4 linked regions of the Homo sapiens genome follow. The protein of the gene in region 1 purifies or fractionates together with the protein of each later gene. This does not show direct contact. Each region holds a gene or a part of one and is shown on either strand. Other genes may lie near its edges. The genes, in order: CD83, USP8, MYADM and BMPR2.

The links.
Region 2: the proteins of CD83 (region 1) and USP8 purify together in Homo sapiens (affinity purification with mass spectrometry; 2 studies listed by BioGRID and IntAct, with this or other methods). This does not show direct contact.
Region 3: the proteins of CD83 (region 1) and MYADM purify together in Homo sapiens (affinity purification with mass spectrometry; 2 studies listed by BioGRID and IntAct, with this or other methods). This does not show direct contact.
Region 4: the proteins of CD83 (region 1) and BMPR2 purify together in Homo sapiens (affinity purification with mass spectrometry; 2 studies listed by BioGRID and IntAct, with this or other methods). This does not show direct contact.

The regions. Positions count from the first base shown.
Region 1 is NC_000006.12:14,113,171-14,120,775, reverse strand, and holds the start of CD83 (CD83 antigen isoform a precursor), read right to left. Parts: upstream 3,005-7,605; 5' UTR 2,965-3,004; coding exon 2,928-2,964; intron 2,827-2,927; coding exon 2,711-2,826; intron 1-2,710. UniProt on the Homo sapiens protein: Transmembrane glycoprotein predominantly found on the surface of many immune cells including dendritic cells or lymphocytes that plays various roles in immune response regulation.
Region 2 is NC_000015.10:50,427,404-50,434,431, reverse strand, and holds part of USP8 (ubiquitin carboxyl-terminal hydrolase 8), read right to left. Parts: intron 1-7,028. UniProt on the Homo sapiens protein: Hydrolase that can remove conjugated ubiquitin from proteins and therefore plays an important regulatory role at the level of protein turnover by preventing degradation. Converts both 'Lys-48' an 'Lys-63'-linked ubiquitin chains.
Region 3 is NC_000019.10:53,870,864-53,876,944, reverse strand, and holds the end of MYADM (myeloid-associated differentiation marker), read right to left. Parts: intron 3,418-6,081; 5' UTR 3,416-3,417; coding exon 2,447-3,415; 3' UTR 510-2,446; downstream 1-509.
Region 4 is NC_000002.12:202,512,301-202,519,328, reverse strand, and holds part of BMPR2 (bone morphogenetic protein receptor type-2 precursor), read right to left. Parts: intron 5,611-7,028; coding exon 5,500-5,610; intron 4,442-5,499; coding exon 4,350-4,441; intron 508-4,349; coding exon 277-507; intron 1-276. UniProt on the Homo sapiens protein: On ligand binding, forms a receptor complex consisting of two type II and two type I transmembrane serine/threonine kinases.

The sequences.
Region 1 (7,605 bases):
TAATTACAAGTATCAGTGCCAAATGGACAAAGGCAAGATGCTACATGGTGCCGGAGGATTGAGTGGTGAATAGAATTTTAAATTGTGAGTCATTATAACCATACTTATGATATGCAGACAGCCTGCAGAATGTGCTTCAATCTGGTGGATGGTGAAAACCCACTGCAAGGGACTCTGCTTTCCTTGCCCAGTATGAAGCCCCCTCCTAAGCTGGCAAAACAGGTTTTACAAAGCCAGGGTAGTGATGATGAAGTGAGTAGGATGGGATAAGCTGGTTCTGGTTACCAAAATGAAATTCCTCCCTTTGTGGCTACCCCTCCACTTTGATGAAACATTTTACAAGAAACTTATAGAAAAATGACCAGATGCTTAACATTCTGTAAAATGAAGTATTTTGGCATTTCACCACTGGCCTTGTCTCCAGAACACTCTATCCATTTTTGTTGTATAAGCATAATCAATGAAAAAGTATAATTATTGGGCTGGAAAATAATAAGTATCTACAGAACATGCTGAGAGCTGTTTTAAAAAAAATGCTTAAAGGAACAATATATGTCACTTTCGAGGCACCTGATTCGTTTATTGGTATAGCATAACTCTCCTACCCACGAATCTCAATCACCATTTACTTCTCAAAAAATAACTACGGTATGACTTTTCATTGGCACTATTCCATGGATCAACAGGAAAAAAAGAACGCCTAGAGACTGCTGTCCCTTTTTTTCTTGACAGAGCTTTCAAAGACCTTGGGGGTAAATCTCGCAAGAATTCTGTCCAATAAACAAGCTCATGCGTTACCGAGTTACGTCACCAGCTGACATCCAAGGAGAAGTCCAAGGTTAATTGCTATGGTTTAGTGGACCATTCCAAATGACCCTGTGCAAGAAGCTTTCACTCCAGAACTGTTTGAACTTCACAGCCTGAAATTTCATCTACTTGTTTCATGAGTACTTTTTAATTACTCCCCTGGGGGTATTAATAATGTTTTCTTTATTAAATAGTTACTCTCTGGAAGGGATAGTGGTTTCATGTTTTTCCCCGTTCTTTGAGATAACTAAGTCCCTGCCTGGTTAGCCCAGGGGCACTTTGATTTTCTTTATCTTAAGTTATTAAGGGAGAAAACAGAGATCAAGATAGACCTCTAACAACTCAGGATTTGGAATCAGACTGCTTCGTTCAAATCCCAACTCCACCATTTAGCTAGCTGTGCAAAAGTGGACAAGTTATTTCCCTCCCTAAGGCTCAGTTTCCTCACCTGTAAAGTAGGAATAGTAACAGTACTAATCCCTAAGTCCATTCTTCCGATGGATGGAAATGGATAATGTATGTAAATATTTACCTTGGAGCTTGGCACGTGGTGAGCATTCAAAAATTGTTTTTACAATATTTTTAAAAATACTATTGTTTTGACTATGAGAACAATTTCGGAATTGTTGTGTTCTCTGATCCCACAGTAAGTAAGGTACCAATGAAGTAGGAATATTTAACACCTTACTTTTATACACAATACAATGCTCTGAGGCAGCAGCACCATCCCCGTCATGCATAACTCATGAAGTGCTGGGCTGAATTCACAGAGCACCTTTGCAATTTATAGGGCAAAAATTAGGTGCCGTGAAGAATACACAGAAGTATGGATACAGCCACTGCCCCCCAGGGAACTGACCATCCAGTTAGGAGACACACACACAAAGAGATCACCGCAATGATGCCTTGTACTGTTAAGTGGCCAAAGACGTACAGTTTCTTATAGTATCTTTTATGGTGGGCAGAAGAACGCCCTGCATTTTGGGGAAAGCTACAAGTGCAGAGATTTGCCCCCGTGGTAAGACAGCAAATCAGTGAGAGCTACAGAGTAAGGTTGTAATATCATATTCATTTGGGTTAAAATGGAGGTGCTGTGGTAGCAGTGGCCTGACTTAAAGAAGGACCAGTGATATCAAACAGTAGCTGCTTGGCTTTGGAATGACACCATCATTGCCATCTTAGAATCTGAGAATGTTTCAGTCAAGAGGAAACCTTGAAAAAGCCTCCTTGTCACTCAGTCCACTTACAGTAGGAGCAGCAAGGCCTGTTCTTACACATGCGGGCTCCGGCTCATGCATCCACCTGATGCTCTCAAGGCTGCCAGAGGAAGGAGGAGGAGGGCTAGGGGAGGAAGCCAAGGGTATCCCACAAAGGAGATGACCACTGATAACTACCATGGATGAAATGGCCTAAGTCACTTCTGTGTCTTAGCCTTTCCTTTCAAATTGCCCCCTCCCCCTCCCATGTATCATGGGCATCACAGTCACAAAACACAAGAAATCAGAAGTCTGGAGACATTCCCCCTGTCCAATGCCCAAATCTAGGTCCCTGTTGCTTTCTTCCTGACCTGCTGGCCCACAACCACAGGTGGCCTCCAGAATTAATCCAAATGAGAGTCTCTGCCCTTCCAAAACATCTTAAGTGGATCATTCATCTCAGGCCACCTTCAGTGACAGGAAGGGGATTGAGGTCTGCGGAGAGCAAAACCTAATTCGGCCCTGTACCTGGATGCGGATGGGGTGGGGGAGGCGCGACGGGAGGCTGGGTACTCCAAGTTCAGCTGCGGGAGACGCCCCTCGCCCCCACCTGGCAGCCACAGAGGGTCGCCAGCCTAGGGGAGATGGTTCCTGCTGTCTTCAAATGAGCCCACCAAACCCCAGCCCGTGGGTATCGCAGCACCTACCTTGACCCAGGAGACCGTGTAGGGAACCTGCGGATCCCAGGGGGCGGTGCAGGGCAAGTCCACATCTTCGGAGCAAGCCACCTTCACCTCCGGCGTCGCGGGAGCCAGGCTGTAGGCTACAAGAAAGAGAGAGCGCGTCGTGAGCAAGCGACCGACGGGAGGGGGTGTCGTGGAGGGGCGGGGGGCGACAGGCGAGACAGGCGCTCGCGAGCCCTACCGCAGCTCAGGAGCAGAAGCTGGAGGCCGCGCGACATGGCTGGAGCGCTGCGCCGCTGCCACGAGCTGCAGAGCTGTGGCGCGCGGGCGCCGGCTGCCCTTTTATGCCCGCGCGTTCGGGAACTTCCCTGCGCGCCAGCCCGGGGGATTCCCCGGCGGGCAGCGGAAGCGGGTGGCGCGCCCTCCTAGTCCCGCTTAGGCCGGGGCGCCCCCGTCCCCGCCCCCTTCGCCCCCGTCCCCGCCCCCGTCCCCGCCCCCGTCGCACCCGCCGCCCTCGCCGCGTGCGCGTCCCCGCCCCCGCGCGCCCGGGCCGGGCGCCCCGAGTTCGCGTCGCTGCTGCGGCTGGCAGCGGCGACAGCAATCCCCGCGTGACGCCCAGCGCTGGGGGCTTTGCAGACCGCGCTCGCGCGCGTGACGCTGCCGTTGACCCGCAAAAGGAAGCCGGGAACCGGGCCATCCGAGCGGGATCTGCCCATTTTACGGAGGCCAAACCAGATTCCGAGAGGGTGGGCAACTTCCTCAGAAGCCCAGCCTGTCCTTGGGAACGCACTGGTGAACCCAAGTCCTCACTCTTCTCCAGAATCTGTGATAATCAAAGGCGCGTTAGATTTCCATGGAAACATACAAGTCTGTAGTACTTGGCTCCCTGCCTTCCCCGGGAGGTTATCAGTCAGTACCGTCCTGTTTAAATTATATCACCAAAGGAGAGTGTCTCCTATTAAAATAATAATTACACGCATACACAACATTTTTGGAAAAGAAAATTCTAGAAGACAATGAAATCACCTGTAATTCATCCAGGAAGTAACTTCAGTTAACATTTTTTTATATTATAAAATGTTTATAACATAACATAACGTAAAATATTTATAACATTTGTCAGTGCACAGATTGGTATTTTTAATGGTTTATTCTTCCTGCTATCTTGTAACCTACTTTCTTTTAGCTTAATAATTTGCAAGCGGTTCCACATCATTAAAAACTTCCAACAGCATCATTTTGGTCCATTGTTCAGTTGCACCATAAATTAGAATCGATTAGTGTTAGACATACAGGTTGTTTCTTTTTGTATTACTAATATTAGAAACAATACTGTGATTGCTATGGGAAACTTCAGTGTAGATAAATCTTTGCTCTAAAATTGCTTATTTTCTTAGAATAAATACCTCAAGGAAATTGTGCTAGGTGAAGGGGAGTTTCCAATTTTGTCAAATATTGCCAAAAAATTACCTGCAAGGAGGTGTCTTCAATCTATATTCCCATCTGCAAAGAGAGTGCCTGTTTGCCAACACAAACTGTTATCCAACCTTTCTATCTTTGTCCATCCAAGAGGTTAAAAAGAGTGGCATCACTATACCACCAGTTCTAATCTGCTCTTGGAAGTAGTTATATCAATTGACAGTCCCGCCAGCTTGTGTGAGTACCTTTTCTCCAGCAGCCTCACCAAATTAATTTTTTAATTGTGAAAATGTTAAGCATACAAAATAAGTATAGAAAATATGGAATTGAACACATCTGTATACAATTTATTCTTGAGAAATAAAACAGTACTAACATTTTCGAGACCCTCTTTTTTTTTTTTTTTTTTTTTTTTTGAGACGGAGTCTCGATCTGTCTCCCAGGCTGGAGTGCAGTGGCCGTGATCTGAGCTTACTGCAAGCTCCGCCTCCCGGGTTCACGCCATTCTCCTGCCTCAGCCTCCCGAGTAGCTGGGACTACAGGAGCCCGCCACCACGCCCGACTAATTTTTTTGTGTGTGTATTTTTAGACGGGGTTTCACCGTGTTAGCCAGGATGGTCTTTTGAGACCCACTATGTGTCCTCTGCCAGATCTCATACCTAGCCATTTATGCTTCTTTTCAGTTTTTCCTGATTATAAACAATGTTGCAGGGGAGCTGAAAGTCTTCCAACACTCTAGCTCAGTAATTACACTGCATTGTTAAATATTGCCGTCTTATTATCCAAAATGCACATGCCCATTTACACTCCCCTCAGCAGGTCTTAGCATGATCAGATTTTTTTCTTTAAAGATAGGGTCTCACTATGTTGCTCAGGCTGGTCTCAAATTCCTGGGCTCAAGAGATCCTCCTACCTTGGCCTCCCAAGGTACTGGGATTACAGGTGTGAGCCACGTGCCCAGCCAGATCTTTTTAAATTTCTGCCTATCTAATGAGTGTGAAATATTAGATCCTTTTTGCTTAATTTATGTTACATTGATAACATATGCTTCAAGAACATTGGATATTTCTGAGCATTGTCATTCATATCCTTTGGCCTTTTCCATGAGCGCTGTTTATAAAATCTGGGCCAAATCCTTTCTTGGTTATATCCATGCCAAATCTCTTCTCCAAGTTTAAGATTTGTATTTTCCATTTTGTTTATGATATCTTTAATTTACCAAAGAGTTTTTAAAAAATATTTTCATGTGGTCAAATTTACTGATCTTTTGGTTTATGATTTGTGCTTCTGGTATTGTGTTTAAGAAATCTTTTCCTGACCTGAGATCATAAAAACATTCTCCTTCATTTCCTTCCAAAACTTTTAAAGTCATGCTTTTTCATATGTTGGTCTTTAATCCATTTAAATATGGTTTGATGTCGTGATCTAACTTATTTTTTCCATATGGATAACCATTTTTTCCAATGCTGCTTGCTAAAAGTCCTTCTTTCCCTACTGATTTAAAATGACATCTGTGCTTTATACAAATTTCTACATATGAGTGGGCCTGTTTCTAGACTCTATTCTGCCTCTCTTTGTGCTAATATCACACTTTCTTATTACTATAATTTAATTAAGTCTTGCTGTGGTGGAAGTGAGTCCTCACATGTTGAACTTCGTCTTCAAAATCGTTCTGGTGGCTGGGTGCAGTGGCTCACGCCTGTAATCCCAGCACTTTGGAAGGCCCAGGTGGACGGATCACTTGAGATTAGGAGTTCAAGACTGGCCTGGGCAACATGGTGAACCTGGTCTTTACTAAAAATGCAAAAAAATAACAAATACAGAAAATAGCCGGGCATGGTGGCTTGCACCTGTGGTCCCAGCTACTCAGGAGGCTGAGGCAGGAGGATCGCTTAAGCCCAGGAGGTCCACGCTGCAGTGAGCCGAGATTGTGCCACTGCACTCCAGACTGGGTGACAGAGCAAGACTGTGTATCCAAAAAAAAAAAAAATGTTCTGGCATTCTTGGTTCTTTGTTCTACCTTATACATATTATATCAATTTGTGAACCTCAAAAAACTTGATTTGAATTTTAGTAGGAATATATTCAATTTATAAATCTCCTAAAATCAACATCTTTAGAAGTCAGTTCTACAAATTCATCCCATATTGTGTATCTTTCCATTTATTTAGGTCTTCAAGAATTTTTAAAATTATATATATATAGGTTTTTCACATCTTTTGATAGATTTCTTCCTGGATACCTTCACATTGTGTTGCTACTTTCACATATATATTTTTTAAACTCTATTTTTCTAGGTGTCCATAGCCAGTGAGTAGAAATTTCCTTTCTTATTAATGTTAACAATGTGTTCTTAGACTCTCCATTAAGTCACTTGTTGAATTATGAATTATTTAGAGGGTTTTTTTAAAAAAATTTCCCAATATATGGCTTGCTTTTCATTTTGCTACTGGTGTCTAACAGTTGAGGTTGCTCAAGAACAGTCTGTATGATTCTTTGTTGCAATATCAAGGATTGCTTTGTAGCCTCATATGTGATCTTTTGGTAAGAGTGGCATGTACTCGGAAAGAAAGATCTTTTTGATTTTGCTCATGGTGTTGCTCAGATCTTCTATATCCCTTCTGTAATCATGAACTATCAATTATTGAAAGAGATGTGTTAAATTCTCTCCCATGACTACAGAATTGTCTGTTTATCTCTGAAATTTTATCATTTTTTTGGCTTGGTATAATTTGATGCTATGTTTTAGTGTCTGGAAGTTATGTTTTTCCAATGAATTGTTCCTTTTTCTCTTCATTTATTTGACTTTTTTTTTTTTTTTTTTTTTTTTGAGACGGAGTCTCGCTCTGTCGCCCAGGCTGGAGTGCAGTGGCGGGATCTCGGCTCACTGCAACCTCCACCTCCCAGGTTAAGCAATTCTCTGCCTCAGCCTCCCAAGTAGCTGGAATTACAGGCACCCGTCACCATGCCTGGCTAATTCTTGTATTTTTAGTAGAGATGGGATTTCACCATGTTGGTAGGCTGATCTCGAACTCCTAACCTCATGATCCGCCCACCTCAGCCTCCCAAAGTGCTGGGATTACAGGCGTGAACCATCATGCCCAGCCTGTTTACTCTTAATATTACCATCCTCTGCCTCTTCTTTTCTCTGGGTTAATTTCTTGCTGGCGTTTTCAATACTTTTACATTCAACATTTCTTTTTCCTTACATTCTATTGTGTCCTTTTTAAAGTATATTGTTAGATTTTCTTCTATCCAGTATGACTGACAATCTATCTTGCTAACTGAGGGTTTAATTTTATTACTTTGTGAATTCTGCTACATTAGGATTTATTTTGGTCATTTTGTTTTACGCTTTATGCTTAACCAGATTTTTCTCTGCCTCTTCCTTTCTTGCATCTTTTTATTGACCATTAATAAAAATATTTTAGCCCGGGCATGGTGGCTTATGCCTGTAATCCCAGCACTTTGGGAGGCCGAGGCGGGTGGGTCACATGAGG
Region 2 (7,028 bases), on another chromosome or scaffold:
TTGAAAATGAGTTAACAAAGAGAAAATGCAGCCGGGCGTGGTGGCTCAGGCCTGTAATCCTAGCACTTCGGGAGGCTGAGGCAGGTGGACTGCTTGAGGTCGGGAGTTTGAGACCAGCCTGGCCAACATGGTGAAACCTCATCTCTACTAAAAATACAAAAATTAGCCGGACGTGGTGGCGCACACCTGTAATCCCAGCTATTCAGGAGGCTGAGGCAGAAAAATCGCTTGAACCCAGGAGGTGAAGATTGCAGTGAGCGGAGTCTGGGCGACAGAGCAAGACTCTGTCTTTTAAAACAAAACAAAACAAAACAAAACAAAACAAAAAACCTTATGCTTCAAGAAGGATTGCAAGTGAAAAAAAAATAACTAAGTATATGCAAGAAAAATTAACATGCTTCTAACAACAAAAAATAAAAATTCTTAAGATGTGTAAACCTGACAAAGAACTTCAGCCTTAGTCAAACAGCAGTGCTCCAAAAGTGAAACCCAAAAGTGTTGAAAATGAGTTAACAAAGAGAAAATGCAGCCGTGCACAGTGGCTCACGCCTGTAATCCCAACACTTTGGGAGGCCAAGGCGGGCGGATCACGAGGTCAGGAGATCAAGACCATCCTGGCTAACACGGTGAAACCCCGTCTCTACTAAAAAGACAAAAAATTAGCCGGGCACGGTGGCGGGCACCTGTAGTCCCAGCTACTCAGGAGGCTGAGGCAGGAGAATGGCACGAACCTGGGAGGTGGAGCTTGCAGTGAGCTGAGATCGCGCCACTGCACTGCAGCCTGGGCAACAGAGACTCCATCTCAAAAAAAAATAAATAAATAAAGAGAAAATGTTCTTTCTCTGACATCCTTCTGCTCCTTTCTAAGACAAAGAGTAGGGATTTGATGACTGGAACCACAAAGTGAAGACTAAAAGGTAAAAAGTGAAAAATGAGGTTTGCAGTCATTCAAACTGGTCCTGATTTTAAGCAGGGATTCACACCAGCCACTCCTAAGGTCTTTGGCAATATTGAAAGGAAAGCAAAAGTTGTCTTTGTTGGTCACCCACCATCTCTCTCTATTTCTGCCCTTAGGCAGCAACAATACTCAACATAAGTATCTTCTCGCTGTCTTAAATCTCATAATCCACTCTACACTCGTTCTGTATAAGGTGCCACAAACAACTAAGTATTGATTAAATAACTTTTTTTTTTTTTGGAGACGGAGTCTCACTCTGTCGCCCAAGCTGGAGTGCAGTGGCATGAACTTGGCTCACTGCAACCTCCACTTCCCAGATTCAAGCAGCCTCAGCCTCCCAAGTAACTGAGATTACAGGCGCCCCGCCACCATGCCCCACTAATTTTTGTATTTTAGTAGAGACAGGGTTTCTCCATGTTGGCCAGGCTGGTCTCGAACTCCTGACCTCAGGTGATCCGCCCGCCTCGGCCTCCCAAAGTGGTGGGATTACAGGCGTGAGCCATCGTGCCCGGCCAATGAAATAACATTTTAAAGTAATCCTCAAGTATTAAGAAGGCTCAACCCTCTCAAGATTTAATCACTGCTAAAATGTATGGTATTTTCTGAGCAACTACTATGTCTCTAGCACTGTGCTAAATGCTTGAGGGCAGTGTTTTTAAAATCCATTAGAAGGTCATGATCAGCATTAAAAAAATAGCAAACATCAGACTATGTCACACATAGTAAGGTTAGGTACTGCTTCGTAAAATTGTTTCAGTTATGTACATGTGTATATGATATAACACTGGATGAAAATGTAAAATGTATTTCTTAATACAGGTGACAATTTTAAAAAAAGTATGAAAGTCTCACACTACAGCAATGTAACTCCAAGTATGGTCCAATGACCAGTGCTGATTGGGGAACTGTTTGTTATCAGTTTGTGATAAAATAAGAAGTTTGTGACAGAATGTAGATCAATTAAGCACACTGACCTTTTTAAAGTAGCAGCAAGACTTTCTCCATGCAAAAAGCAGTGCACTGACTGGGCGTGGTGCCTCACAGCTGTAATCCCAACACTCTGGGAGACTGAGGTGGGAGGACTGCTTGAGCCCAGGAGTTCAAGAACAGATATTTATGTTGAGTATTGTTGTTGCCTAAAGGGCAGAGATAGGGAGAAATGGTAGGTAGCCAACAAAGTGGGCAACAAAGTAAAGACAAAAAATTTTACAAAAAATTTAAAAATTAGCTGGGCGTAGTGGTGCACATCTGAGGTCTCAGCTACAAGAAGAAACAAACTTAAGTTCCATCTCTTCCATCCTTTATGGTCCCAGTTCTTGGAATTTGTTTCTTCATGTGAATCCTACAATGCTTGTGATCTATATCATTCCTTAAATACAGTAATGGGATCAACAGACAATTACTATAAGGCTTTAAAATCCTCATACACACGCAGTGCTCATGATGATGTGATGAGAGAGAGAACCTGGCCTTGAGGACAGAATTTAGCTAAGAACAGGGTAAGAAAGGAGGACATCTGGCTGGGCATGGTGGCTGACACCTGTAATCCCAGCACTTTGGGAGGCTGAGGCAGGCAGATCACCTGAGGTCAGAAGTTCAAGACCAGCCTGACCAATATGGAGAAACCCCGTCTCTACTAAAAATACCAAATTAGCTGGGCATGGTGGTGGACGCCTGTAATTCCACCTACTCAGGAGGCTGAGGCAGGAGAATCTCTTGAACCCAGGGGGCAGAGGTTGCAGTGAGCCAAGATCGCACCACTGCACTCCAGCCTGGGCAACAAGAGTGAAACTCCATCTCGGAAAAAATAGTAATAATAAGGAATATTACAGAAGTTATTGGGAAATAATCAATCGGATAGAGGGAAAATGTTGACATGTCTTTGGATCCCTGGCACCTATCTCAATAGTCCTCACATAGTCACCACTTTAATAAATGTTTCTCCCTGTCAGCTGAATTTAACTAAAAGGAAAAAAAAATGTTGACTAACAAGAATAACTAAATTATATTATGTAGGAGATGGAGTCACATTATGGAAGACTTTGGAAGCCATCCAGAATTCTTTATATTTGATTCAGCAGGCAATAAAAGCCAGTTCCTGATGGGAAAAATATTATCTCAAGATGGTCAAATTAGGGATATGTAAGTAAGATTGAAAGGAGATGAGAACAAGGGAATGATACTATGGAAAAGAGTAACTACAAGGTCACTGCAGAAAAGAACACAAAATGGTAGAAACATGCTTTGGTAACTGGTTGATCGAAACAGTATTTTCTCTTGCTTACACACACACACACACACACACACAGAGGCACACACACTGTACCCTGCAAAATATGAAGAGCAGTAGTGCTATTAACAAAAAAAGTAATACTGCAGTTTAAAACTGATCAGTTTACAGCAGCGTTTCTCAACCTTGCCATCACTCACATTTTGGACCAGATAAACATTTGTTGTGAGAGGCTGCTCTGTGCAATGTGCACTGCAGGATGTTTAGCAGCATCCCTAACCTCTACTAGACGCCAGTTTACTATCATCCTTCCCTTCCAGTTGTAACAACCAAAACTGTCTACAGTCATTGCCGAATGTGTCCTGGAAGGCAAAATTACCCCCAACAAGAACCACTGGTTTACAGCAAAGTAGGTAATTCGATGTGGAAAATGTTGAGTGTATGCCAAAGGAACATCTTAAGATGTAAATATTAACTAGAAATCAGTTATATGTGAGAGCAGACAGATATTAAATCTGTTTATCAACTAATAAGGCATCAATGTTGACTTTGATAATCCCTATTGTTTTGGAAGATAATTAAGTATTGACACCAAAATTATGTTATCTAGGATTTGGTGAACTGCTGGGCAACACAGTGAGACCTTATCACTACAAAAAAAAAATAAAAAAATAAAAAATTAGCAGGGCATGGTGGCATGCGCCTGTGGTCCCAGCTTCTCGGAAGGCTGAGGCCTTCCTTGAGCCTGGGAGGTTGAGCTTGCAATGAACCATGATTACACCATTGCACTCCAGCCTGAGCAATAGAGGGAGACCCTGTCTAATTGGGGGAGTCTTAGAATGCCATGAGAAAAAAAGAAAAGAAAAGAATAAACTAGCCCTAGTTCTTTATTTTTTTGAGATGACGTCTCACTCTGCTGTCCAGGCTGGAGAGCAGTGGCGCAATCTCGGCTCACCAAAACCTCCACCTCCCCGGTTCAAGCGATTCTCTTGCCTCAGCCTCCCAAGGAGCTGAACTAGCCCTAGTTCTAAAGAGTGACTGTCTAAACTGGCTTCAATTAGGTAAACAATAGATACCTACTATACACAAGGTGCAGTGTTGTGATACAGGGGATACTAAAAAAATACAACTCTTAATAAAGTTTCTGCCTCTTAAAATGAAAGTTAAGTACATAACGGTAACAAAGTAAAGTGTGGCTTAATGCTGTGATATAGGCACTTAGCAAACCAGGCCAATGTCTGTTTGTTTTATTAAGGACCATTCCCAGAAACTAACAAAAGGGTAACTGTTTTCCAGAATAGATGTCTATCTACATTTATAACTTTAATCCATTTCTTTTGTCTTCTACCTCATTAATTTTTTAACAGATGCAAAATCATTAAGTAGGGAGCCAGATCGTACTTAACATGCACCAAAAACATAGTTCTCAATCCCAGCTGTATGTTAGAATCAGTTACCTAGAGAACTTTAAAAAAATATTGATGCTCAGATCCCACTCCTAAACAATTAAATCAGAATCTCTATGGATGAGACATACACACAGGTATTTATTTTCTTATTTATATATTTAAAAAAATACAGAGTCTCACTATGTTGTCCAGGATAGTCTCAAACTCTTGGGCTCAAGTGATCCTCCTGCCTAGGTCTCCCAAAGTGCTGGGATTACAGGCATGAGCCAACCTCGCCTTGCCCACATAGGTATTTTTAAAAAGCTTCCCAAATGAATTCTAACACCAGTCAAGACTGGGAACCATCAATATAAGAATGAATATAAACATGCTGCTAGGAGCAACAAAATAATATGAAGGCAACAATTTGTTTCCAGCTGAAATCAGCATCTTAAATCATTCAACCTACCAAAATTTTAAAAAATCATTTTCATTTTTAAAACTCTGTAATTGAGAAATTAAAATAACACCTCCAAAAAAAAAAAAAAAAACACCTCCAGGATGCTTATGCCCATAACTCTTGTTCTGAAATTGGTATTATAATGTGTAATTATTTCATTTTACTCTATTAAAAAGACATGTGGGTTTACACCATTATTGGTATGTTTCAGAATTTAGTGTAGTAGTCCCCCCTTATCCATGGTTTCGCTTTCCATGGTTTCAGCTACTTGCAGTCAACCACAGTCCAAGAATATTAAATAAAAAATTCCAGAAATAAACAATTCATAAGTTTTAAATTGTGCACCACCTCACTTCGCCCAGTCTGTGACATGAATCATCCCTTTGTCCAGTGTATCCACACTGTAGATGCTACCTGCCTGTTAATCACTAAGTGGCCGTCTCAGTTACCAGACTGACTATAGCAGTATTACAGTGCTTGTGTTCAAGTAACCCTCATTTTACTTAATCATGGCTTCAAAGTGTAAAAGCAGAGATTCACGTATGTCAAAAAGAAGTTGTAAACTGCTTCCTTTAAGCAAAAAGGTGAAAGTTCTCAACCTAATAAGAAAAAAAACCAAAAACCTCATGCTGAGGTTGCTAAGATCTATGGTAAGATCTTTTATCTGCAAAATTATGAAGGAAAAAGAAATTTGTGCTAGTTTTGCTGTCACACCTCAAGTTGCACAAGTTATGGCCACAGGGCATAACTTTTATTACACTATATTGTTGTAATTATTCTATTTTATTATTAGTTATTGTTGTTAATCTCTTGTTACTAATTTATAAGTTAAACTTTATCATAAAAATGTATATATAGGGAAAACATAGTATATATAGGGTTCAGTACTATCTGTGGTTTCAGGCATTCATTGGAGGTCTTGAAACATATCCCCTGCAGATAAGAGGAAGACTGCTGCATTATTAAAAACTAAATTGTAGGCCCGGCGTGGTAGCTAACGCCTGTAATCCCAGCACTTTGGGAGGCCGAGGCAGGTGGATTGCCTGAGCTCAGGAGTTCGTGACCAGCCTGGGCAACACAGTGAAACCCCATCTCTACTAAAACACAAAAAATTAGCTGGGCGTGGCGGCATATGCCTGTGATCCCAGCTACTTGGGAGGCTGAGGCAGGAGAATTGCTTGAACCCATCAGACGGAGGGTGCAGTGAGCCGAGATCATGCCACTGCATCCAGCCTAGGTGACAGAGCAAGACTCCCTCTCAAAAACAAACAAACAAAAAACTAAATTGTAATGTGTTAGTCAAAAGAGACAAGGCTTAGTTAACCCTTATTCACTATACATGAGAACTGTTTTACTTGAATTAGTATGGTATTAGTCAGGTGTGCTGGCGTGTGCCTGCAGTCCTAGCTACTTGGGAGGCTGAGGCAGGAGGATCACTTGAGCCCAGGAAGCAGAGGTTACAGTGAGCCAAGGTCATGCCACTGCACTCCAGCCTGGGTGACAGAGCAAGACCTTGTCTCAGTTTAAAAAAAAAAAGGGCCAGGTATGGTGGCTCACGGCTATAATCCCAGCACTTTGGGAGGCTGAGGCGGGCAGATCACCTGAGGTCAGGAGTTCAAGACCAGCCTGGCCAACATGGCAAAACCCCATCTCTACTAAAATACAAAAATTAGCCGGGCATGGTGGCAGGTGCCTATAGTCCCAGCTACTCGGGAGGCTGAAGCAGAATTGCTTAAACCCAGGAGGCGGACATTTCAGTGAGCCGAGAACTCACCACTGCACTCCAGCCTAGAAGACAGAGCAAGACTCCGTCTCAAAAAAAAAAAAAAAAAAAAAATTAGTACGGCTATAAATGTAGAATTCCAAATAAGTTTAATATAATATTTCATCATTCAGTACTAATAAATTTAATATTATGGAACTGTTGCAGGCCTTACTTTCCATTTATTAATCATATGACTTTGAACAAATTCCGTAAATCACTCCCAATAC
Region 3 (6,081 bases), on another chromosome or scaffold:
TTTAGGGGGAAGAATAGACAGTGTTTGATGAGGGACTGACTTGAGTAGACGGGGGGAAGGTACCACCATGTGCTTGGGTTCTCAGCTCTGAGAGGCTATTACTGAAATGGGGGGACCTGGGAGGACGAGGTGACTGGGGAGGAAAGCTCCTTCACTCAAATTAGGACGTTGTATTTGTGAGGTGCTCAGGGGACAGACTCCAAGGAGGGAGAAGTCTAGTTCATTTCTATCCCACCCAGCCCTCCTGGTTTGAGGAAGTCATTTAGAAGACCTAGATCCAGCTAGTATCTTCTGATGAGGCCAAGGTTGTCTTGGCACCAACCCTATTCTCCCACTAGACCCAAGAATCTGGCCCTTGCCCCTCTCCGAGAGTCCTCCCCCGCTTTTCTTTTTTATTTTTTTGTAGAGACGGGGTTTCACCATGTTGGCCAGGCTGGTCTCAAACTCCTGACCTCAAGTGATCCGCCCGCCGTGCTCGGCCGCCCTCCTCATTAAGAAAGCACAAGTCCTTCTTTTACCTTTATATTGATATTTAAAAGAAAAAGAACATGATGGATACGGGAATGGGGGAAGGGACAACGGTTCTACGATTAACAACAGGAACTGATAGGAACCAGAAGCTCCAGGGATTTAAAAAAAAATAAAATATATATTTATACATTTATATATATATATATATATATCACGTTATGTATGTGAGTCCCAGACAAGCAGGAAGCAGCAGCAAGAAGCAACTAGCACACAGAAACACCCGTGCGTGTGCACTACACATTCAAGCAAAGCCATTCCTCTAGCTAGGACGCAGCAATCCCCACCCTCCCACCTACGGGCAAAAGAGAACAGCTGAAAACAAACTTCCCTCTTTAAGGGCCACTCAGTAATTTTTGTCCTCATGGCCAGGAAAAAGAAAGAAAAACAAAACAAAACAGAAAAGGTCGATCTTGCCTTGAAAGCGGGCAGTGGCTATTTTCTTCTCTCTGCCAAAGCAGGACACGTTATTCTTAACACAGAGGGCCACATCGCTGTCCCTCACAAATACTTCAGACAGTTGTCTTCAACATCCTGTGGTTCTTCGTCCGATTCCTTTTTTTTTTTGAGATGGAGTCTCGCTCTGTCCCCCAGGCTGGAGCACAGTGGTGCCATCTTGACTTACTGCAACCTCCACCTCCCGGGTTGAAGGGATTCTCCTGTCTCAGTCCCCCCAAATACCTGGGATTACAGGCGCCCGCCACCACGCCCGGCTAATTTTTGTATTTTTAATAGAGACATGCTTTCACCATGTTGGCCAGGCTGGTCTTGAACTCCTGACTTCAGATGATTGCCTGACTTGGTCTCCCAAAGTGCTGGGATTACAGGCGTGAGCCACCACGCCCGGCCCCGACTCCTTCTTTTTTTTTTTTTTTCTTTTTGATACCACAGAGAATAGTTGGGATGAAAGGCATCCAGCCCCTGCTTCCTTTAAGATGGCCTCTAGGCAGTGGGTGTTCTGTAAGCCTGGCAAAAATTCTGGAGCCAATCTCTGGCAAGGCTGAGTGCCAGGCGGGGCCTAGGGACCCAGGGTCGGTGCTTAAAGCCTCCCGCCCATTGGAAATTACTGACCTCCAAATATATATATATATATGTTTTTTAATTTAAAGGGGAAGTACACTGCACACCTTCCTCCACTGGGAGAAAGAGGGCCCAATCCCCAGCTACCCACCCCCCACCCCCCAAACACACACACACACACACACACACACACACACGTACACACTGACTAAGGCACAGCGAGGGTGGGCAGGCATGCTTTGGCAATGGGGCCCCTTGGGGGGCTGTGGCATGGACGGCTGCAAGGGGTGTGGATGTGAGCTCAGCACCTTTGGAGGTGGGTGGAGGCAAGGAGAGAAAGAAGTCTCAGGGCTCCCAAGGACACAGGAGAAGGTGCTTGCAAAACAGGCAGATAAGAAAGCCGACAGGCAACCCAGAAAAGAGATGAGAAAAAAGAAGAGTGGAAAAAGAGAAACAGGCTGGGTGCGGCAGCTCACACCTGTCCTCCCAGCTACTTGGGAGGCTGGGGCAGGAGAATCGCTTGAACCCAGGAGGCGGGGGTTGCAGTGAGTCGAGATCGCACCACTGCACTCCAGCCTGGGCCACAGAGTGAGAATCCGTCTTAAAAAAAAAAAAAAAAAAAAAAGAAAAGAAAAAGAGAAACAGCTCAGGGGTGAAAACAGGATGTGGGCAACAAAACAACACAGGAAGGAAACAGCAAGAGGAAAGGGAAGGAAGAAGATGCATCCAAGAACTGGTTAGAGTGCAAGGAATTGGGAAGGAAAGAAAAAGGTGGGAGGGAGGGGAGACAGGAAGAGGAAAACAGAGGAAAGGCGGAGGAAAGAAGTACTCCATAAAGAAAACTCGGGCAAGAAGAACAAAGAGGTTGGAGAGGGAACGGGAGCCTCTTGGGAGAGTCTTAGACCTTGACAAAAACCAGGTGGGCAGAGTGCACCAGGTCAGCCACATACGCCAGTAGGTTGATGGCCGTCAGGATGGCCACAGCCAGTCGGCGGTCCCAGGCACACACGTAGTAGGCATGGCTGCGGCTGCAGCTTACATCTCTCGAGCGCCGAGGCTGGCCGCCATACTTCTCATCGAACTGGTAGAGGGGCCAGAGAACAAGGGCGGTGGCATAGAGGAGGACAGACAGCAAGGCCAGCCCCGACAGGAAGCTGGGGAAGGGGATGGGTAGCACGTTGGTGCACTCCCCCAGGTTCAGCAGGATGGCGATGGCCGCTAGGATGAAGCAGATGGCGTACACCGCCACGCACCACTCCAGGGCCGGCTGGTGCTGGTACAGGTTGGGGTCGCTGATGAACGCGAAGATGATGCAGGCAACGAAGGTCTCCAGCACCTTCAGCAGCCCGGGTACGGTGGCCATATAGCCAGTGATCTCGCCGGGCCGGGCCCGGGTCCAGGCCACTTCGGTGGCGTAAGCCACACACGCGATGCAGGAGAAGAAGGTGGCGGCGATGGCGTGGTCCCGCGAACGGCCGTGGGACAGGAACTGGACATAGGTGGTGGGGTAGATGATGGAGGCCGAGAGGCAGAAGAGGGCCGCATAGCAGGCGAAGGTGATGGGGAAGTTGCGCCAAGACAGGGGGAAGCGGGCCTGGAGCCCGCACAGCTCCACGATGAGGATGATCAGGGTCACGGAGAAGCAGAAGCACCAGGTGAACATGGACCAGTTGCCCATGGACCCCGTCCAGGCGCCCACGCTAGCCACCAGCGAGAAGGCCACGCAGGTAGACACCAGCTGCAGCAGGCGAAGGAGACCCAGGGGCTGTGTCAGGGCCCGAGGGGACCCCACGATCATGGGGGACCCCAGGCCCGAAGATGACGTCGTGGTGGTTGTGATGGTGGTGCGGGTTACCGTCACTGGCATGGCTGCAAAAAGGGGAAAGACAGTGTCCTTATACAGTCACAAACATAAGAATCCAGGTCCCTTAGCCATTGCCTACCCCAGGGACAAATTAATATGAGCTCTAATTAGGGAGTTCCCAAGATGTGGGGCTTTCGGTTTTCTTTTCTTTTTTTTTTTTTGAGACAGAGTCTTGCTCTGTGGCCCAGGCTGGAGTGCATTGGCACAATCTCAGCTCACTACAACCTCTGCTACTCAGGTTCAAGTGATTCTCCTGCCTCAGCCTCCCGAGTAGCTGAGATTACAGGCATGTGCCACCACGCCCGGCTAATTTTTTTGTATTTTTAGTAGAGACGGGGTTTCACTGTGTTAGCCAGGATGGTCTCGATCTCCTGACCTCATGATCCGCTGGCCTTGGCCTCCCAAAGTGCTGGGATTATAGGCGTGAGCCACCGGGCCCAGCCTTGGGTTTTCAAATGGGGACAGTCCTGGGCATACAGGGATGAGCCTGTCCCCTCCGGTTCAAGGCTCACTCCTCCCCTACTCGTATCAGAATCCAGGAGTCTAGGCCCCTATTTTCCTCCTTCTCAAGAGATTCTTCTCTCTTTCAAGACCTAACTACTGTACAACTACACTGTTTGCTTCCCACTCCAGATACCGTGCTTCCCTCTTTCCCTCCCTCCCCAAGGGACTCAGTAGCTCAGCCATTTAGCACTCTGTACTCTATAGCACCACCCCTCTGGCCAGGCACAGGTGTGGCTGATGCCTGTAATCCCAGCACTCCAAGAGGCTGAGGCAGGAGGATTGCTTGAGCCCAGGAGTTGGAGACCAGCCTGGGCAACCTTAGGGAGACCTCATTTACCAAAAAAAAATTTTTTAATTAGCTGGGTGTGGTGGTGTGTGCGTGTGGTCCCAGCTACTCGGGATGCTGAGGTGGGAGGATTGCTTGAGCCTGTGGGGTCAGGGCTGCAGTGAGCTGTGATGCACCAGTGCACTCCAGCCTGGGAGACAGAGTGAGACCCTGACTCAAAAAAAAAAAATTTTTTTTAATTACAAATAGGCCGGGTGTGGTGGCTCACACTTGTAATCCCAGCACTTCGGAGGCCAAGGTGGGTGGATCACTTGAGGTCAGGAGTTGGAGACCAGCCTGGCCAACGTGGCGACACTCGGTCTCTACTAATAATACAAAAATTATCTGGGCGTGGTGGCATGCACCTGCAATCCCAGCTACTCGGGAGACTGAGGCAGGAGAATCACTTGAACCCAGGAGGCAGAGGTTGCAGTGAGCCAAGATAGAACCCCTGCACTCCAGCCTGAGCCACAGAGCCACACTCCGCCTCAAAAAAAATAAAATAATCTGGGCGCAGTGGCTCATGCCTGTAATCCCAGCACTTTCGGAAGCCGAGGCTGGCAGATCACTTGAGGTCAGAAGTTCAAGACCAGCCTGACCAACATGGTGAAACCCCGTCTCTACTAAAAATACAAAAATCAGCTGGGTGTGGTGGTGGGCGCTTGTAATCGCAGCTACTTGGGAGGCTGAGGCAGGAGAATCGCTTGAACCCTAGAGGTGGAGGTTGCAGTGAGCCGAGATTGCGCCACTGCACTCCAGCCCGGGTGACATGAGTGAAACTCCATCTCAAAAAATAAAATAAAATAATAAAAATAAATAAAATAAATAAAAAATAAAGCATCCTCCTTCTGCCTCCTGCCACAACCCAAGTGTCAGAACAAAACGCTTGTCTTCCACAGGCTCTGAAAACCCCATCTCTCAACTTCCTTTTCTTTCAGTATTCAGAGCTCTGCACCCCAGACCCTGTGAGCAAACTTCCTTCTTCCATCGAACAGTGACCTAGACATTTGCAGCCTCTAAACGGCCCAACCTCCCCAGGCTTCCACTCTCAGGGACCCACATCTAATAAGAGCTCCGACCTCCCGATAAAGGATATCTTCTCATAGAGATCCCAGCCGTGGAAAACCAAGAGATCTCCCCTCCCTTCTGACAAGGAGCCTAAACTCTTAGCGGCCTCCTCCTCTCCCTACCCCCCACCTTGGAGATTAGCAACCTTCACTCTCAGTCTAACTCCCACCTGAGATTTAGGACTGGAGTACTGCAACCCAAAAAAGCTAGTTTGAGCCTCCCCCTCCACACTCCTGCATACTGAGTCCATCTACCTCCACCTTCTCTCCCCAAAACCCAGCCAGCTGGTCCCCCAGCTTCTGGGAAACTCAGCTCCCCAGATTTCCAACTGTCCAGTAGGAACCCCAGGCCCTTCCACTGAACTCTCTCTAGGCCTCACAATCCTGTTTTTTGGTTGTTGTTTTTTTTACATGGAGTCGCTCTGTCACCCAGGCTGCAGTGCAATGGTGCGATCTTGACTCACGGCAACCTCCGCCTCCCGGATTCAAGCGATTCTCCTGCCTCAGCCTCCTGAGTAGCTGGGATTACAGGTGTGTGCCACCATGCTCGGCTAATTTTTGTATTTTCAGTAGAGATGGGGTTTCGCCATGTTGGCCAGGCTGGTCTCAAACTCCTGACCTCAAGTGATCCGCCCGCCTTGGCCTCCCAAAGTGCTGGGATTACAGGCATGAGCCACTGCGCCTGGCCATCACCGTCCTGTTATAAGGGGTCAGACCTCTGGCCCTGGACCCTTAGCCTGAAGGATCCCAGATGCCCCAGACTCCAGAAAACC
Region 4 (7,028 bases), on another chromosome or scaffold:
TACGGCTGTACAATCTCGGCTCCCTGCAACCTCCGCCTACCGGGTTCAAGCAATTCTCATGCCTCAGCCTCCCAAGTAGCTGGAATTACAGATGTGTGCCATCATACCCGGCTAATTTTTGTATTTTTAGTAGAGACGGGAGTTTTGCCATGTTGGCGAGGCTGGTCCTGAACTCTTGGCCTCAAGTGATCCACCTGCCTTAGCCTCCAAAAGTGCTGGGATTACAGGCATAAGCCACCACACCTGGCCTCAGTTTATTTTCTATGAAGAACTTACATTGGGATAGTACTCCATCACAAGCAAATATTCCATGCGTCCATCTGCAGTGACTCTCTCATCTCCAACTATAAAGCGGGCAATGTTGTCATGTTCCATCAAAGGCACTCTGTAAATGTTCTTTTCGTTGATAAAATTCTGACGGTTTGCAAAGGAAAACACTTTTACAGCAACTGGACGCTCATCCAAGGAGCCTTTATATACTGCTCCATATCGACCTCGGCCAATCAGCTGCAAGTGTTTTAAAGAAAGCAAGGTATTAATATCACAATTGAACAATCAAATTTACTAAATAATAAAGTACAAATTTAAACAGAATGCTACAGCTCTCTGTTGCTTACAGTTTATTCCATTATCAAGAAATTAATAAATTCTGTTCTAGTATGGCTGATGAAGCTCCTACCAGACCCAGCCTGCCCATAGAGAACATTTATAAATGCTGGACAAAATTTAAAAAAAAGAAAGATCTAAAGGCAGATAGATCTTGAGAGGCATTAAAGCTTTGAGAAAAAAGTGGTATGGGGCAAGCTACCCATTTTTATGACTTTTATCCTGAGGGCAGGCTGAAATCAGCACTGTGCAGTGGAACTAAAATTGCTAAAGAAAACCATTCTAGGCTGGGTGTGGTGGCTCATGCCTGTAATCTCAGCACTTTGGGAGGCTGAGGTGGGCAGATCACTTGAGGTCAGGAGTTCGAGACCAGCCTGGCCAAAGTGGTGAAACCCTGTCTCTACTAAAAATACAAAAATTAGCCGGGTATCATGGCACACGCCTGTAATCCTAGCTACTCAGGAGGCTGAGGCAGGAGAATCACTTGAACCCAGGAAACGGAGGTTGCAGTGAGCTGAGACCGCGCCACTGCACTCCAGCCTGGGCGAAAGAGCAAGACTGTCTCAATTAAAAAAAAAAAAAAAAAAAAAAAAAAGAGGCCAGGCGCGGTGGCTCACGCCTGTAATCCCAGCCCTTTGGGAGGCTGAGGTGGGTGGATCATGAGGTCAGGAGATCGAGACCATCCTGGCTAACACGGTAAAACCCCATCTCTACTAAAAAAATACAAAAAAAAAAAAAAAAAAAAAGTCAGGCGTGGTGGTGGGCGCCTGTAGTCCCACTTACTCAGGAGGCTGAGGCAGGAGAATGGCGTGAACCTGGGAGGCAGAGCTTGCAGTGAGCCGAGGTCGCGCCACTGCACTCCAGACTGGGTGACCGAGTGAGACTCCGTCTCAAAAAAAAAAAAAAGAAAAAAGAAGAACAGAAAATTGTTCTGGCCTTGGGAAACTCAGGACATATTTTGGACAGCCACAGTTGCTAGAAAATGAGGGGAGAACCCTAGAAAGGAGAAATTCAGAGAGAGGAAAGCCCAGTGAATATACAAGAGAGTTTCCAGCTAAAGATAAAATAACTGAGGCCGGGCGTGGTGGCTCACGCCTGTAATCCCAGCACTTTGGGAGGCTGAGGCGGGTGGATCACGAGGTCAGGAGTTTGAGACCAGCCTGGCCAACACAGTAAAACCCCATCTCTACTAGAAATACAAAAATTAGCTGGGCGTGGTGGCATGCGCCTGTAGTCACTTTTGTGGAGACTTAAATACTTGCATAAAGATCCCTACATAGAGGCTGAGGCTGGAGAATCACTTGAAACCGGGAGGCAGAGGTTGCGGTGACCCCAGACCATGCCTTGCACTCCAGCCTGGATGACAGAGTAAAAAAAAAAAAAAAAAGATAAAATAACTGAACTGAGATTTGAGCTTCTGCCCCAAACAGATTTGTGGTATGTGTTCAACCAAGTTTATTGCTTACTAAAACAACAAAAAAAAATCTTTTTTTTTTTTTTTAATTGAGATAGTCTTGCTCTTTCACTCAGGCTGGAGTGCAGTGGCACGGTCTCAGCTCACTGCAACCTCCGTTTCCCGGGTTCAAGTGATTCTCCTGCCTCAGCCTCCTGAGTAGCTAGGATTACAGGCGCGTGCCATGATACCCAGCTAATTTTTGAGTTCAGTGTTCCACAATACAATATTCACAATATCCAGAATACAAAAAAATTACTCAACACCCAAAGAACCAGCAAAATGTAACCCATTCTCGTTATTTTTGGCTTCTGGGGATTGCTTTTACTTTTTATTAAAACAGGTTGGGGATTTACCATCATTTATTTAAGGATATATGTTGTGTTTCATACACTGTTTCCAGATCAAAATTATACAAAGTGTCCTTTAAAAAGGTTATATCAATATATAGTTAATTCAGCAATGTTTGGAAGTGTTTCTATCACTTAATCATGGCTAAAATTCCATGGGTTAACTAGTATTTCTTTCAGCCTTGTAAATTGGACATCTTACTGTACATTTCTTAGCCACACTTACTTCTTTTGTGAATTGGCAGTTAATACCTTTTGTCCTTTTTTTTTTGAGACAGGGTCTCTGTCACCTAGGCTAACCACAACCTCTACCTCTTGGGCTCAAGTGATCCTTCAACCTCAGCCTCCCGAGTAGCTGGGACTACAGGCATGTGCCACCACACCCAGCTAATTTTTGTATTTTTTACAAAATAAATGGGGTTTCACCATGTTGCCCATGACTTGTCTTGAACTCCTGGGCTCAAGCAATCCACCCACTTTGGCCTCCCAAAAGAGCTGGGATTACAGGTGTGAGTCACAGCACTCAGCCTTTTTGTCCATTTGCTATAGAATGTTTCTTTCATCTTGATTTATATCAGTTCTTTATCAAGTTTTCCCTTATATGTTGAAATGTTGAAATTTATTTTTCAAATTTGGCTTTTATCTTTGTTTATGGTATGTCTCTCCCAAAACAGAAAGTTCTTACAATTTTTTATATAGTCAAATCTATCACATCTATTATTTAATAGTCTCTGGTTTGGGGACCATAGTTTTCAAGTCATTCTTAATAAATATAAAAACACTCATCATGGTAACACTTTTAATGTAGCTTCTGAGATATCACCAAATGAAACTTAAATTCTATATAAAAGAGCCTTATGTATCTATAAAAATATGTAATATATGCAGACAAGGAGTATTTATTTGTTGTCTATTATGGATCCCTTGTGGCACACTCTTCTCAAACTTTCATGTCTTTATTCTCATACCCTGTACAAATCTCTAATCAAAGGTCAACCTCTTTCTAAATATATTTTCTTTTTCTTTTTTATTTTTTGAGACGGATTCCTGCTCTGTCACCTAGAGTGCAGTGGCGTGATCTTGGCTCATTGCAACCTCCACCTTCTGGGTTCAAGCAATTCGCTAGCCTCAGCCTCCCAAGCAGCTGGGACTACAGGCGGGCGCCACCACTCCCAGTTAATTTTTGTATTTTAGTAGAGATAGGGTTTCACCATGTTGGCCAGGCTGGTCTTGAACTCCTGACCTCAAGTGATCCCCCTGCCTCAGCCTCCCAAAGTGATAGGATTACAGGCGTGAGCCACTGCACCTGGCCATATTTTCTTTTTCTTTCTTTCTTTTTTTTTTTTTTGTGGCAGAGTTTCGCTCTTGTTGCCCAGGCTAGAGTGCAATGGTGCGATCTCGGCTCACCGCAACCTCTGCCTCCCGGGTTCAAGCAATTCTCCTGCCTCAGCCTCCTGAGTAGCTGGGATTACAGGCATGAACCACCATGCCTGGCTAATTTTGTATTTTTAGCAGAGACAGGGTTTCTTCATGTTGGTCAGGCTGGTCTTGAACTCCTGATCTCAGGTGATCCACCAGCTTCAACCTCCCAAAGTACTGGGATTACAGGCATGAGCCACTGCGCCTGGCCCATATTTTCTTTAATAACCCCCTTTTCATCACTTTCTTATCCACTGTACTTTTCTTCATAGCACTTACTACTACTTGCAATTATATTATACATTCCTGTACCTGTCTGTAGACTCCCCAATTCAAATAGAAGCCCCAGGAGACATTGTTCACCTATGTTCCTAGTGCCTAGAATAGGCCTTGACAAAAAATTGTAATTTAGTAAATAGGGTTAAATAAATGAATGAATGTCTTAATGATTGAATGAAGTCACTGTTCCAGGTCTAGTATCACAGTAGAAACAACAGTCCATAATCTAACGGCAAACTTACCTCCAACAGTTTCAGATTATCTAGATCAAGAGAGGGTTCGGATGCTGCTGCCTCCATCATGTTCATACTGTGAAGACCTTGTTTACGGTCTCCTATAAGAACAGGAAACAGGTTACTAATATATGGTTTTCTTAAAATGAATATCTTTTTACACTTTTTATAATATTACACTTAAAAAGAAGAGCTGCAGAAAGATTAGCAGCAAGATTTATGCCTAATGTCAATAGGAGTAAAGCTATTTACTAAACTAGGTAATACCTATAAATTAAGATGAATGCAGAATAGCATGAAAGCCAAATTCTGGGAGACACTCCCATGATGACTTACTTTAAAAGTTTAAAACCCTAAGCAATATTATAAAAACTTTAAAGAAGATTGTATAGAAGTTATTCAAATGAATCAATGAACGCTGATTTCCTAAACAGTCCATCAAACCTAAAGTATATTAGAACCAACTTGACATTTGATGATACTGAGGAATTACTGTTATTTTTTCAGATGTGAAAATGGTATTATGGATATGTATTCTTAAAGCTCTTGTATTGGCCGGACGCAGTGGCTCACGCCTGTAATCCCAGCACTTTGGGAGGCCAAGGCGGGCGGATCACGAGGTCAGGAGATCGAGACCATCCTGGCTAACACGGTGAAACCCCGTCTCTACTAAAAATACAAAAAATTAGCCGGGCGAGGAGGTGGGCACCTGTAGTCCCAGCTACTCAGGAGGCTGAGGCAGGAGAATGGCGTGAACCCTGGGGGGCGGAGCCTGCAGTGAGCCGAGATCGCGCCACTGCACTCCAACCTGGGCGACAGCGAGACTCCGTCTCAAAAATAAAATAAAATAAAATAAAATAAATTTTAAAAAAAGCTCTTGTATTGTAGAGATAATATTTATAGATATATAATATCTAATTAAATATTTACAGATATATGATATCTGTGATTTGCTTCAAAATAATCCAGTGGCATGGAAAGGGGTAGTGACTGATAATTTAAATGAAACAATACTGTCCATACGTGATACTATTGAGGCTGGGTGTATTTTGCATAACTTTGAGACTATTTTTTTTAACATACGGAATTTAAAAGGAGCAAATAAATTGATTAAATTGCATGTTTAATAAACAATAGGACAAAAAATGGTAATTTTTACCTGTCAACATTCTGTATCCAAAGCATAAGGCAACTATCAAAACAGCTAATACAGAGACTGATGCCAAAGCAATGATTATTGTCTCATCTCGGTTAAATGAATGAGGTGGACCTAAAAGAAAACAAATTTTGAAATGTCATTTTTTTTTAAAAAAGTATTTTGTTAAATACTGACAGACTGCCCTTTAGAAAGGCTGTACCCATGTATAATCAAATTAGTAATGTTTTTGCATCAAAGGAAATGAAAGAAAAAATTAGTAATAAATGTGATAATTACAAATTATATTTTTTAATCATACAGACTATTCTGTATAGATTTGGAACACTAAAACACCAAGTAGATGTGCTCCTAATTATTAAAACATCAACAATACCATGAAACAGATTAGACAGGATAGTATAATATCAAGAGTCTTAGAATCTAACAGTTTTAGAATCACATTTGGTTTTAAATCCTCAATTTCCTCATTTATAAAAATAGTACTCTGTATTTCCCAAGTTAGCTGTAAGATTTAGATGGTAGTCTAAGTACTTAACACAACGTCAAGAATATATTATCTGGCTGGGCACAGTGGCTCATGCCTATAATCCCAACACTTTGGGAGGCTGCTGCAGGAGGATCACTTGAGGCCACAAGGTCAAGGCCAGCCTGGACAACATAGCAAAATGCCAGACATTAAAACAAATTAAAAAAAAAAATTAGTCAGGCATGGTGGCATGCACCTGTAGTCCCAGCTACTCAGGGGGCTATGGCAGGAGGATTGCTTGGGCCCAGGAGTTTGAGGCTGCAGTGAGCCATGATTGTATCACTGTACTCCAGCTTGGGTGATGAAGTGAGACTCTGTTTCTTTAAAAAAAAAAAAAAAATTAAAGTTTTTTTTTAAAAAAGCATATATTATCTACGCAATAAATGGTAGTTACACTTATCAATATTGGTATTTTTATTAATGAAAATAGCATGGCTTTGGAGGCAGTTAAATCTGAATAGGACTTGAAGCTCACTTCTTCCACTTAACATATGACCTTAGGAAAGTTTCTTCTCCTATCTGAGCCCAAGTTTACTCACTTGCAGAATGGAATGGGAACACACATAGGTAAATCACAGGGCTATCACAAACATGTAAACATTTTATGTGTTAAGTTCCATTCTGTGGGTCAGATCGCATCTAGAGCAAATACCCTTTAGGATGGATGGCCACAAACTAGAGCATATCCAAAAGAGAGCAAGTACAACTATGAAGGTTTGAGACCTCTGAACTGTGATGGGTAGAAAGAACTGAAAGCATCTGATGAGGAAAAAAAAGAAAACTTGGGAGGATATGATAGCTGTCTTCACATCAAATAACCAGTTCCAATCAGTGTATCTTCAAGGATAAGAGCCTTTAGTTGAGCATACAGAAAAGCATGGCTTATAAACAGACCTGTCTAAAACAGAATGAGTTGCCCTATGAAAGAGCTGTTCATTGTTTAACTAGATGTAGTTATGCAATGTTTGGTAATACTGATCAGAAGCTGCGCTTGATGACTGCC